3 linked regions of the Homo sapiens genome follow. The protein of the gene in region 1 purifies or fractionates together with the protein of each later gene. This does not show direct contact. Each region holds a gene or a part of one and is shown on either strand. Other genes may lie near its edges. The genes, in order: PCDHB2, SPSB4 and CLEC4A.

Evidence for each region.
Region 2: the proteins of PCDHB2 (region 1) and SPSB4 purify together in Homo sapiens (co-immunoprecipitation; one large-scale study listed by IntAct). This does not show direct contact.
Region 3: the proteins of PCDHB2 (region 1) and CLEC4A purify together in Homo sapiens (co-immunoprecipitation; one large-scale study listed by IntAct). This does not show direct contact.

The regions. Positions count from the first base shown.
Region 1 is NC_000005.10:141,092,958-141,096,714, forward strand, and holds the start of PCDHB2 (protocadherin beta-2 precursor), read left to right. Parts: upstream 1-1,657; 5' UTR 1,658-1,833; coding exon 1,834-3,757. UniProt on the Homo sapiens protein: Potential calcium-dependent cell-adhesion protein. May be involved in the establishment and maintenance of specific neuronal connections in the brain.
Region 2 is NC_000003.12:141,061,248-141,064,904, forward strand, and holds part of SPSB4 (SPRY domain-containing SOCS box protein 4), read left to right. Parts: intron 1-3,657. UniProt on the Homo sapiens protein: Substrate recognition component of a SCF-like ECS (Elongin BC-CUL2/5-SOCS-box protein) E3 ubiquitin-protein ligase complex which mediates the ubiquitination and subsequent proteasomal degradation of target proteins.
Region 3 is NC_000012.12:8,136,293-8,139,195, forward strand, and holds the end of CLEC4A (C-type lectin domain family 4 member A), read left to right. Parts: intron 1-495; coding exon 496-611; intron 612-1,847; coding exon 1,848-1,995; 3' UTR 1,996-2,315; downstream 2,316-2,903. UniProt on the Homo sapiens protein: C-type lectin receptor that binds carbohydrates mannose and fucose but also weakly interacts with N-acetylglucosamine (GlcNAc) in a Ca(2+)-dependent manner. Involved in regulating immune reactivity.

The sequences.
Region 1 (3,757 bases):
TTTTAACCCAATGGATCTTTTAGAGACACATCCTAATATTTATTATTATTATTATTATTTTGAGATGGAGTCTCGCTTTGTCACCAGGCTTGGAGTGCAATGGCATGATCTCAGCTCACTGCAATCTCCGCCTCCCGGGTTCAAGTGATTCTCCTGCCTCACCCTCCCAAGTAGCTGGGATTACAGGCACCCATCACCATGCCTGGCTCATTTTTTTTGTATTTTTAGTAGAGATGGGGTTTCACCAGGTTGGCCAGGATGGTCTTGATCTCTTGACCTCGTGATCTGCCTGCCTCGGCCTCCCAAAGTAAAATTATTTTTTAAAGCAGCCTTAGAGTTTACAGAAAATTGAGCAAATAGTACAAACAGTTCCCCTCACATACCGATTTTCTCCCACTCAAAGTTTCCCTGTTATCAAAATCTTGCATTACTGTGGTACATTTGTTACAATTGATGAGCCAATACTGGTAAATTATTAACTAAATTTCATAGTTTAGTGTTCACTCTTTGTGTTGTATAGTTCTGTGGATTTTGACAACGGCATAATGTCATGTATCTACCATTGTAGTATCGTAAAGTACCCCATGTTTAACCTCTTCATCCCCCTCCCTCTTCTTCCTAGCTATCACTTGTCTTTTAAATGTCTCTATAATTTGGCCTTTTTCAGAGTATCATGTAATTTGAATTATACAGTATCATTGCCTTTTCAGACTGGATTCTTTCACTGAGAAATATGCATTTAAGTTTCCTTCATGTCATTCTGTGGCTTGATAACTTCTTTATATTAACATTAAAAAAGAAACAAAAAGACAAAATTAAAAAACCTAACAACAAACAATGACATATATACCCTGTTTGGAAGCAGATTGAAGAAACCATCACTGAAAAGACATTTTTAAAGATAATTGGGGAAACTGGAATATTTACTGGCTATTTAATATTATGAAATTGCTCTTTGCTAGATGTGGTAATTGAATTGAGGTTATGTTGAAAGTTCTCCTAGGCATTAGAAAGGAAAATAATATTGATACATTTACAATAAGGAAATATCTGGCTGCTCTTGGAGAGTTTCATGAGGCTCAGACACATCAAAGTTCAGGAAAATGTGAAGTGGGAGCAGTGCAAAGAAAGAAATATGAGTAAGGAGACTATTTCAGTGCCCATTAAAATACTCTTATTTGGATTCTGTGCTTTTCCTGGGTCTCTGTTTTTCAGCTGGGTTTGAGTGTGATGATGGTAATCTAACCACCACTGAGTTGCACACATGCCCAAACTCTGAATAAAAATAGAACTTTCTTAGTCTAAGCCTTCTTTCCGAAGCATGCTAGGACTGAGATCACTCCCTTCCAGGTTCTGAAATTTATTTTTTCCAGTTTGAAAAAAAAAAAAAGCTTGGATTTGTGAGGGAAGTGAAGATTTATTTATTCTTGCCCTGTCTCTATGGGTGCAATGAAGAGCCTTTCGAAACGCCAATAAGACTTCGGTACACTGAGAGACACTACTTGAAAATACTCAATTTCGATTGCCATCAGCCTGAAAGAAAGCACTGGGATTTTCTTAAAGTTTAGGAGAAAATAAATACTCGGAAGAGACGCGGGGTGGCGCTGCAGCCTTAGAAGTAGCAGAAACAAAGCACCCAGCCGACGCTCCCTTACCCAGATACTCAGCTAAAGAAGCAGCAAGCAGGAAGAGGAGGCTTTCTAAGGCGGTCGCTCCGGGAAATCCGGGCCCTAGGATTGTCCACTCATCCCAGTATCAGCGAGATACGGGGAGATAGAGTTAGCGACAACGTGAGCCAGAGCTGGAGCACGTTTGGTGAGAGACCAGAAAGCAATGGAGGCCGGAGAGGGGAAGGAGCGCGTTCCGAAACAAAGGCAAGTCCTGATATTCTTTGTTTTGCTGGGCATAGCTCAGGCTAGTTGCCAGCCTAGGCACTATTCAGTGGCCGAGGAAACGGAGAGTGGCTCCTTTGTGGCCAATTTGTTAAAAGACCTGGGGCTGGAGATAGGAGAACTTGCTGTGAGGGGGGCCAGGGTCGTTTCCAAAGGAAAAAAAATGCATTTGCAGTTCGATAGGCAGACCGGGGATTTGTTGTTAAATGAGAAATTGGACCGGGAGGAGCTGTGCGGCCCCACAGAGCCCTGTGTCCTACCTTTCCAGGTGTTACTAGAAAATCCCTTGCAGTTTTTTCAGGCGGAGCTACGGATTAGGGACGTAAATGATCATTCCCCAGTTTTCCTAGACAAAGAAATACTTTTGAAAATTCCAGAAAGTATCACTCCTGGAACTACTTTCTTAATAGAACGTGCCCAGGACTTGGATGTAGGAACCAACAGTCTCCAAAATTACACAATCAGTCCCAATTTCCACTTTCATCTTAATTTACAAGACAGTCTCGATGGCATAATATTACCACAGCTGGTGCTGAACAGAGCCCTGGATCGCGAGGAGCAGCCTGAGATCAGGTTAACCCTCACAGCGCTAGATGGCGGGAGTCCACCCAGGTCCGGCACGGCCCTGGTACGGATTGAAGTTGTGGACATCAATGACAACGTCCCAGAGTTTGCAAAGCTGCTCTATGAGGTGCAGATCCCGGAGGACAGCCCCGTTGGATCCCAGGTTGCCATCGTCTCTGCCAGGGATTTAGACATTGGAACTAATGGAGAAATATCTTATGCATTTTCCCAAGCATCTGAAGACATTCGCAAAACGTTTCGATTAAGTGCAAAATCGGGAGAACTGCTTTTAAGACAGAAACTGGATTTCGAATCCATCCAGACATACACAGTAAATATTCAGGCGACAGATGGTGGGGGCCTATCTGGAACTTGTGTGGTATTTGTCCAAGTGATGGATTTGAATGACAATCCTCCGGAACTAACTATGTCGACACTTATCAATCAGATCCCAGAAAACTTGCAGGACACCCTCATTGCTGTATTCAGCGTTTCAGATCCTGACTCCGGAGACAACGGAAGGATGGTGTGCTCCATCCAAGATGATCTTCCTTTTTTCTTGAAACCTTCTGTTGAGAACTTTTACACTCTGGTGATAAGCACGGCCCTGGACCGGGAGACCAGATCCGAATACAACATCACCATCACCGTCACCGACTTCGGGACACCCAGGCTGAAAACCGAGCACAACATAACCGTGCTGGTCTCCGACGTCAATGACAACGCCCCCGCCTTCACCCAAACCTCCTACACCCTGTTCGTCCGCGAGAACAACAGCCCCGCCCTGCACATCGGCAGCGTCAGCGCCACAGACAGAGACTCGGGCACCAACGCCCAGGTCACCTACTCGCTGCTGCCGCCCCAGGACCCGCACCTGCCCCTCGCCTCCCTGGTCTCCATCAACGCGGACAACGGCCACCTGTTCGCTCTCCAGTCGCTGGACTACGAGGCCCTGCAGGCGTTCGAGTTCCGCGTGGGCGCCGCAGACCGCGGCTCCCCGGCGTTGAGCAGCGAGGCGCTGGTGCGCGTGCTGGTGCTGGACGCCAACGACAACTCGCCCTTCGTGCTGTACCCGCTGCAGAACGGCTCCGCGCCCTGCACCGAGCTGGTGCCCCGGGCGGCCGAGCCGGGCTACCTGGTGACCAAGGTGGTGGCGGTGGACGGCGACTCGGGCCAGAACGCCTGGCTGTCGTACCAGCTGCTCAAGGCCACGGAGCCCGGGCTGTTCGGCGTGTGGGCGCACAATGGCGAGGTGCGCACCGCCAGGCTGCTGAGGGAGCGCGACGCTGCCAAGCAGAGGC
Region 2 (3,657 bases), on another chromosome or scaffold:
TTTAAAAAGAAAATTCATTATAATTTATAGACCAAAAAAAAAGAGAGAATAAAGCAAAATTCCTCCAAAAGCTGACAATGTTTATATCTGGTTAATGAGATAGGAGAAAGAGGTGAATTCTAGTTTTTGTCCTTTTTTTGTATTCTCTAAAATTTAGACATTTATTTAACCTTTTCTAATTAATGAGCTTTATTTCTTCAGAATAGTTTTAGATTTAAAGAAAAACTAAACAGATAGTACAGAGAGGTCCCATATGCTCACTCCATTTATCACCCTAGTTTCCCCAATTATTAGCATCTTACATTAGTATGGCACATTTATCACAACTAATGAACCAGTATTGATACATTATTATTAACTTATTTTAATAATTAATATTAATAATTGTTATTAACATATTTTTTCAGATTTCCTTTTTTTCTCAGATTTCAGTTTTTACCTAATATCCTTTTTCTTCTCTTTCTTTCTTTTTCTTTCCTTTTCTTTCTTTCTTTTTTTTTTTTTTTGAGATGGAGTCTCCCTCTGTCACCCAAGCTGGAGTGCAGTGGCACGATCTTGGCTTACTGCAACCTCCACCTCCTGGGTTAAAGCAGTCCTCCCACCTCAGCCTCCAAAGTAGCTGGGACTACAGGCGTGTGCCGCCACACCTGGCTAATTTTATTTTTTTAGTAGAGACAGCATTTCACCATGTTGGCCAGGCTAGTCTTGAACTCTTGACCTCAAATGATCCACCTGCCTTGGCCTCCCAAAGTTCTGGGATTACAGGTGTGAGCCACCAAGCCCAGCCCCTAATATCCTTTTTCTGTTCCAGATCCCATCCAGGATACCACATTATGTGGAATTGTTAGGTCTCCTTAGGGCCCTCTTCACTATGATGGTTTCTCAGACTTTGGTTCCGATGACCTTGCCGGTTAGGTCAGGTATTTTGTGGGATGGCCTCCAGATGGAATTTGTCCTTTGTTTTTCTCATGATTAGAGTGAGGTTATGGGTTTTGGGGAAGACACCCAAAGGAAGATTTCATTATATCATATCAAGGGTACACACTATCAACATGATAGATTAATATAATAGTAATATAATAATATAACATAATATAATATGATACATTACATGATTAGCTTTAATAGTTTATATGTTTTATTGATTTTGTTTTGTTTTTGTGGTAGTTTTTCCCAAAGAACCATCTCTTTAGTTTTTGCTTAGTTCTATTATTTCCCTATTTTATTATGCTCCATTCATTTTTTAAAATTTAATAGCATAAATATATCAGCCATGATTTCCTCTGAGAACTGCTGTAGAGGCACCCCGCAGGTTCTAGTATGTGGAATGCTTTTTGTTATTGTTGTATTCCAGATATTCTGCAATTTCTATATGGATTTCTTTTTTGATCTGAGTTGGGGTCAAGTTGTTTAAAGAATTTTTTAAAATGCCTAAGTGATAGGATTTTGTGATCTATAATTTTGTGATTAATTTCTAGTTTTCCTTCTGTGTTATCAGATACTGTATTATTTTTGCTTTTTTTGAAGTTTTGTTTGTGACCTAATATACAGGAAAATTTTTTTGATCATTCCATGAACACTTGAAAAGAACATGCATTCTTTGTTTTCAAGGTATAGAATTTGATGAACACATTAGTTAGATCTGTCTTATTAATTATGTAATTTGGTTTTTCTATGTCTTTACTTAATTTTGGTCCACTGGTCCATCATGAGCTAGAAGAGGGAAATTAAAATTACATGCCTCTGATGTGTGTCTGTCTAAGGCCCCTCCTTATATTTCCTCTAGCTTTTGCTCTGAATTTTGGTGCTATTTGGTGAGTTCGGTCTTCAATTGTGGATCGCATTCTTTATTATTATTAAGTATTCTTGTCTCACTTAAAACCTTTTGTCCTGAAATCAACTTTACTTGCCTAATATTAAGATTACAGTGCCTGCTTAGTTTGAGTTCACACTTCCCTGTTATGTGTTTGCCCTTCCTTTATTTTCAAAATTGTTAAATCACTTTGCTTTGGGGAATGTCTCTTATATGTAGCATATGGTTGGGGGTTTTGTGTTTTTCCCCAGTCTTATAATCTTTTTTTAGCAGTTTACTATGGCCATTTAATGACATGGTCAATATTTCGGTCTTAGTTTTACTATCATATTTCATGCTTTTATGCCTTTTTGCCTCTCTTGCTTTCTAACAAAATCTTTCAGTATATGATCTGTTTTATTTTGTATTATGTTCAAGGTTTGTATCTGCAAGATGTGTATTTTTATTTTTAGTTCTGGAGGTTACCTTTATAACTAGCCAAAATGGATTTAATCTTTTGTTGAGACCATGCTAGGTGTCTCCCTTCTGAAATAATCAATCACAAAATTAGTTTACAAATTTGGTTCCCATTTTTATCTGCTTTGTGGCAGCTTTTTTCAGGTGAGTTTGCTTGGTTTGCCATGTTTTGTCCTGTTCGTTTATTCCTTTCTTTCTTCTATAGCATCTTTGACTATATCCTGTGCTGGTTCCTCTTTGAAAGAGGTAAACCTTCTTGGATCAGCATTTTGCAGGAGACACATGTGGAGGAGGTACCAAGAAGAGGGCAGGATTGCTCCCTGGTTCCCAGGAACTTTGTTCACAGGGTTGTTGTAGTGACTTCCTTTAGTCTTTGCTTCTACTCTGTCAGCAGAGTTCTGCAGCTGTGGGCTTCTCCCAATTCAGAGCCCTCCTCTCACTCTGCCTTGCCAACACACTGCTTCCTGTGAAGATGGCGGGTCTGTGGTTTCCTCTGTTGGCCCTGCCCTCCTCTTCCCCCAGGGTGTAGGAGGCAGCTCCCACTACCAGACCACATGCCCTGTTCCCATTTTTTCTGATAAGGGATCATTAGTTTTTTCCTTCAGGGAATGCCAGCTCCTGGCTGGCTCTGCCAGCTTTGTCTGAGATCTGCCACCACAGGTGTCTTCTCTAGGTGTTTTCTCACAGTATTTTTGATCTTCACTGCTTTTGGTAGCCCTTACCTGTTTTGGGCAGCCTTTCCTTATAAGCTGTGTTTCAGGTTATAAATGTGTTCTAGTTTGCTGAAGAAGGAGTTTGCATTTCTTTTTTTCTCCTGGATTTTGGGTGATTTCGGATATGAAAAGGAGTAACTTTATTCTGCTATCTTAAAACTGCCTAGTGTTGCAAATTGTTATGTGTTCTGGTATTCCCTCAGATTGAACATTAGCCAGAGCTCTCGGAATAGGGTCAACATCTGCTGAAGCTGGGATCTGACAATAGAGAGGGAAGAGTATGAGAGTTAAGAATAAAATGGAATGGTGAAAAACCCACAGGATACTTGTCTGTGCTGTGTGGCAGCAGAGTTCTTTTCGTCCCTACCTGGACTTTGGCTAGGGGTGTACCACTGTCTGGGTGGGAGGTTGAGGCTGGGGAGGGCAGGGCATGAAAAACACCCATCCATCTCCTCATCTGGCTCAGGAGAAGTTGTTCTAGGCCCAGCAGCTCTCAGGCCAGGGAGGGGAGGGCACACGCCTCTGCTCTGGACAGGGCTTGGCTCTCCATCTCTCTCCATACCCAGGGCCCGTCCAAGTAGTCCGAGCTCCTTGGGTTCTGTCTGGTTTCCTAGTGATGGTGGCCAATTCCTTCTCCATGAAAACCAGGATCCTGTCTCAGGGAAGGCAGTCTGG
Region 3 (2,903 bases), on another chromosome or scaffold:
GCTAGCTCATGCCTGTAATCCCAGCACTTTGGGAGGCCAAGGCGGGCGGATCACTTGAGGCCGGGAGTTCAAGACCAGCTTGGCCAAAATGGTGAAACCCAGCCTCTACTAAAAATACAAAAATTAGCCAGGCATGGTGGCACACACCTGTAGTCCCAGCTACTGGGGAGGCTGAGGCATGAGAATCGCTTAAGCCTGGGAGGCAGAGGTGCAGTGAGCCAAGATTGCACCACTGCACTCCAGCCTGGGACAGAAAGTGAGACTCCATCTCAAAAAAAAAAAAAAAAAAAAATTCCTTCCGTATGTACTGAACATCATGCTTACAAGCGATGTCTTTGATTCTGCCCTGCTCAGCCAGAGATCCCCATTCCTACGTAGAGCTCTAATGCAGCTGTTGCTGGATCCTCTCCTTTTCTTCTTGTTTCTCTAAGGTATTAAGAATTCAGTTTAAGCTGAATACTGTAAAGGCTGTGACTCCTTCTTTTCCCCCCTCAGGATTTCATCTTCCAGAATCTGCAAGAAGAATCTGCTTATTTTGTGGGGCTCTCAGATCCAGAAGGTCAGCGACATTGGCAATGGGTTGATCAGACACCATACAATGAAAGTTCCACGTGAGTATAGAATGAGATAAAAGAATCTTGGGTCCTGGATCATGCAGAGAGCTTAGGGTATTCTAGCTATCAGCTATAAAAGTAAAATAGCTCACTCTTCTTTTAGCTCTTGGGTACTAGGTTAAATAATTTCATTATCTCATTTAATCTGCGCAAGAACCCTATGAGGCACACATTGTTATTTTTCCCACTGTAGATATGAGGAAATTGAGCTTGGAGAGTGTAGATAATTCAGCTAAGGTCACCCAGTGGTGTCAACAATTGTTCTCAAATCAGGTGGATCTTACTGTGCTTTTAACCCGTATATTTACCTGTCTCTACATAGTGAAAACCCATGTTGATTAAGATCATAACCAATTATTAAGATTTAATAATGCTTTTTTTTTCTTTTTTGAGACAGGGTCTTACTCTGTCAACCAGGCTGGAGTGCAGTGGTGCAATCATGGCTCACTGCAGCCTTGAATTCCTGGGCTCAACTGATCCTCCCACCCAAGTCTTCTGAGTTGCTAGGATGACAAGTATGTGCCACCACACCCAGTCAGGCTGAAGATGTAATGCTTCTTATGAAGCAAAAATGCTAAATTCTGATAATCTTATATCTCATATTTATGTAATTCTTTAATTGCATAAATTACATACTTTACATATATTACATAAATTACATAAAATACATACTTTACTGGATTACCACCTTCGATCTTCATATCCACTGTATGAAATAAATAGTGATATTACTCTAGTCCTTATTTTTTAGATAGAAAAACTGAGAATCAGGGAAGTTAAATTACTTGTCCAATAACAAGGATAAGTAGAAGATTCAAAAGATTTTACTAGTTCTCTAGACTTTAAAAACAGTGCATTAAAAAAAGGAAAAAACTCTATTGATAAGTGGGACCAGGGTAAAATCTTTTCATCATACAAGGACACCCTATAGGTTGATGGACCCATAGGAACAGGACATAAGGATGGACAAATAGAAGAGAACCTCTAGAAAATCTATGGTGAGGATATTCAAAGCAGTAAGGTAGAGAACATTGAGTGACATAGGCACAGTTTTCAAAGGAAATGCCGGAAATGCAGATGGAGGAGAAGCTGCATGATGAGTAGCAGAAAGGTGGATTTGGGCATATCTGACCCTATGTTCCATGAAATTCATCCCTCGCTCCTCACCCCTGTCTCTAACCCTTTTCAAAGCTCTGTTTGAAGAAATGCCCTCATCCTTTTTGTCGCTTTCAGATTCTGGCATCCACGTGAGCCCAGTGATCCCAATGAGCGCTGCGTTGTGCTAAATTTTCGTAAATCACCCAAAAGATGGGGCTGGAATGATGTTAATTGTCTTGGTCCTCAAAGGTCAGTTTGTGAGATGATGAAGATCCACTTATGAACTGAACATTCTCCATGAACAGGTGGTTGGATTGGTATCTGTCATTGTAGGGATAGATAATAAGCTCTTCTTATTCATGTGTAAGGGAGGTCCATAGAATTTAGGTGGTCTGTCAACTATTCTACTTATGAGAGAATTGGTCTGTACATTGACTGATTCACTTTTTCATAAAGTGAGCATTTATTGAGCATTTTTTCATGTGCCAGAGCCTGTACTGGAGGCCCCCATTGTGCACACATGGAGAGAACATGAGTCTCTCTTAATTTTTATCTGGTTGCTAAAGAATTATTTACCAATAAAATTATATGATGTGGTGTCTCCTCCTGTCTGGTTTTCTCTTCATCCCTACTATACTGATATATAATTGTATATATATACTGACATATATATATATTATATTTTATATATATATTATAATATATATATATACACTGACAAATAAAATTGTATATATTTAAGGTTTACACTGTGGTGATTTGACATACATATATATTGTAAAATGATTACCGTAATCAAGTTACTTAACCCACACCCATTATCTTACATAGTTAACAATCTTGTGTGTAGTGAGAACGTTTAAGATCTACTCCATTCTGTCCATTGGTATCAACAAACACAAAGCAAGATCTACTCCCCAAAAAATTTCAAGTGTGCAATGCATCATTATTAACTATAGTCACCATCCAGCACATTAGATCTCTAGAACTTCGTCATCTTAGAACTGAAAATTTGTACCCTTTGACCAACATTGCCTGATTTTCTCCACTGCCCTCCATTCCCTCACAACCATCATTTTACCCTCTGTTTCTATGGATTGACTTTTTAAGATTCTACATATAAGTAGAATTGTACAGTATTTGTCATTCTCTGTATGACTTATTATATTTCACTTAGTATAATGCCCTCCA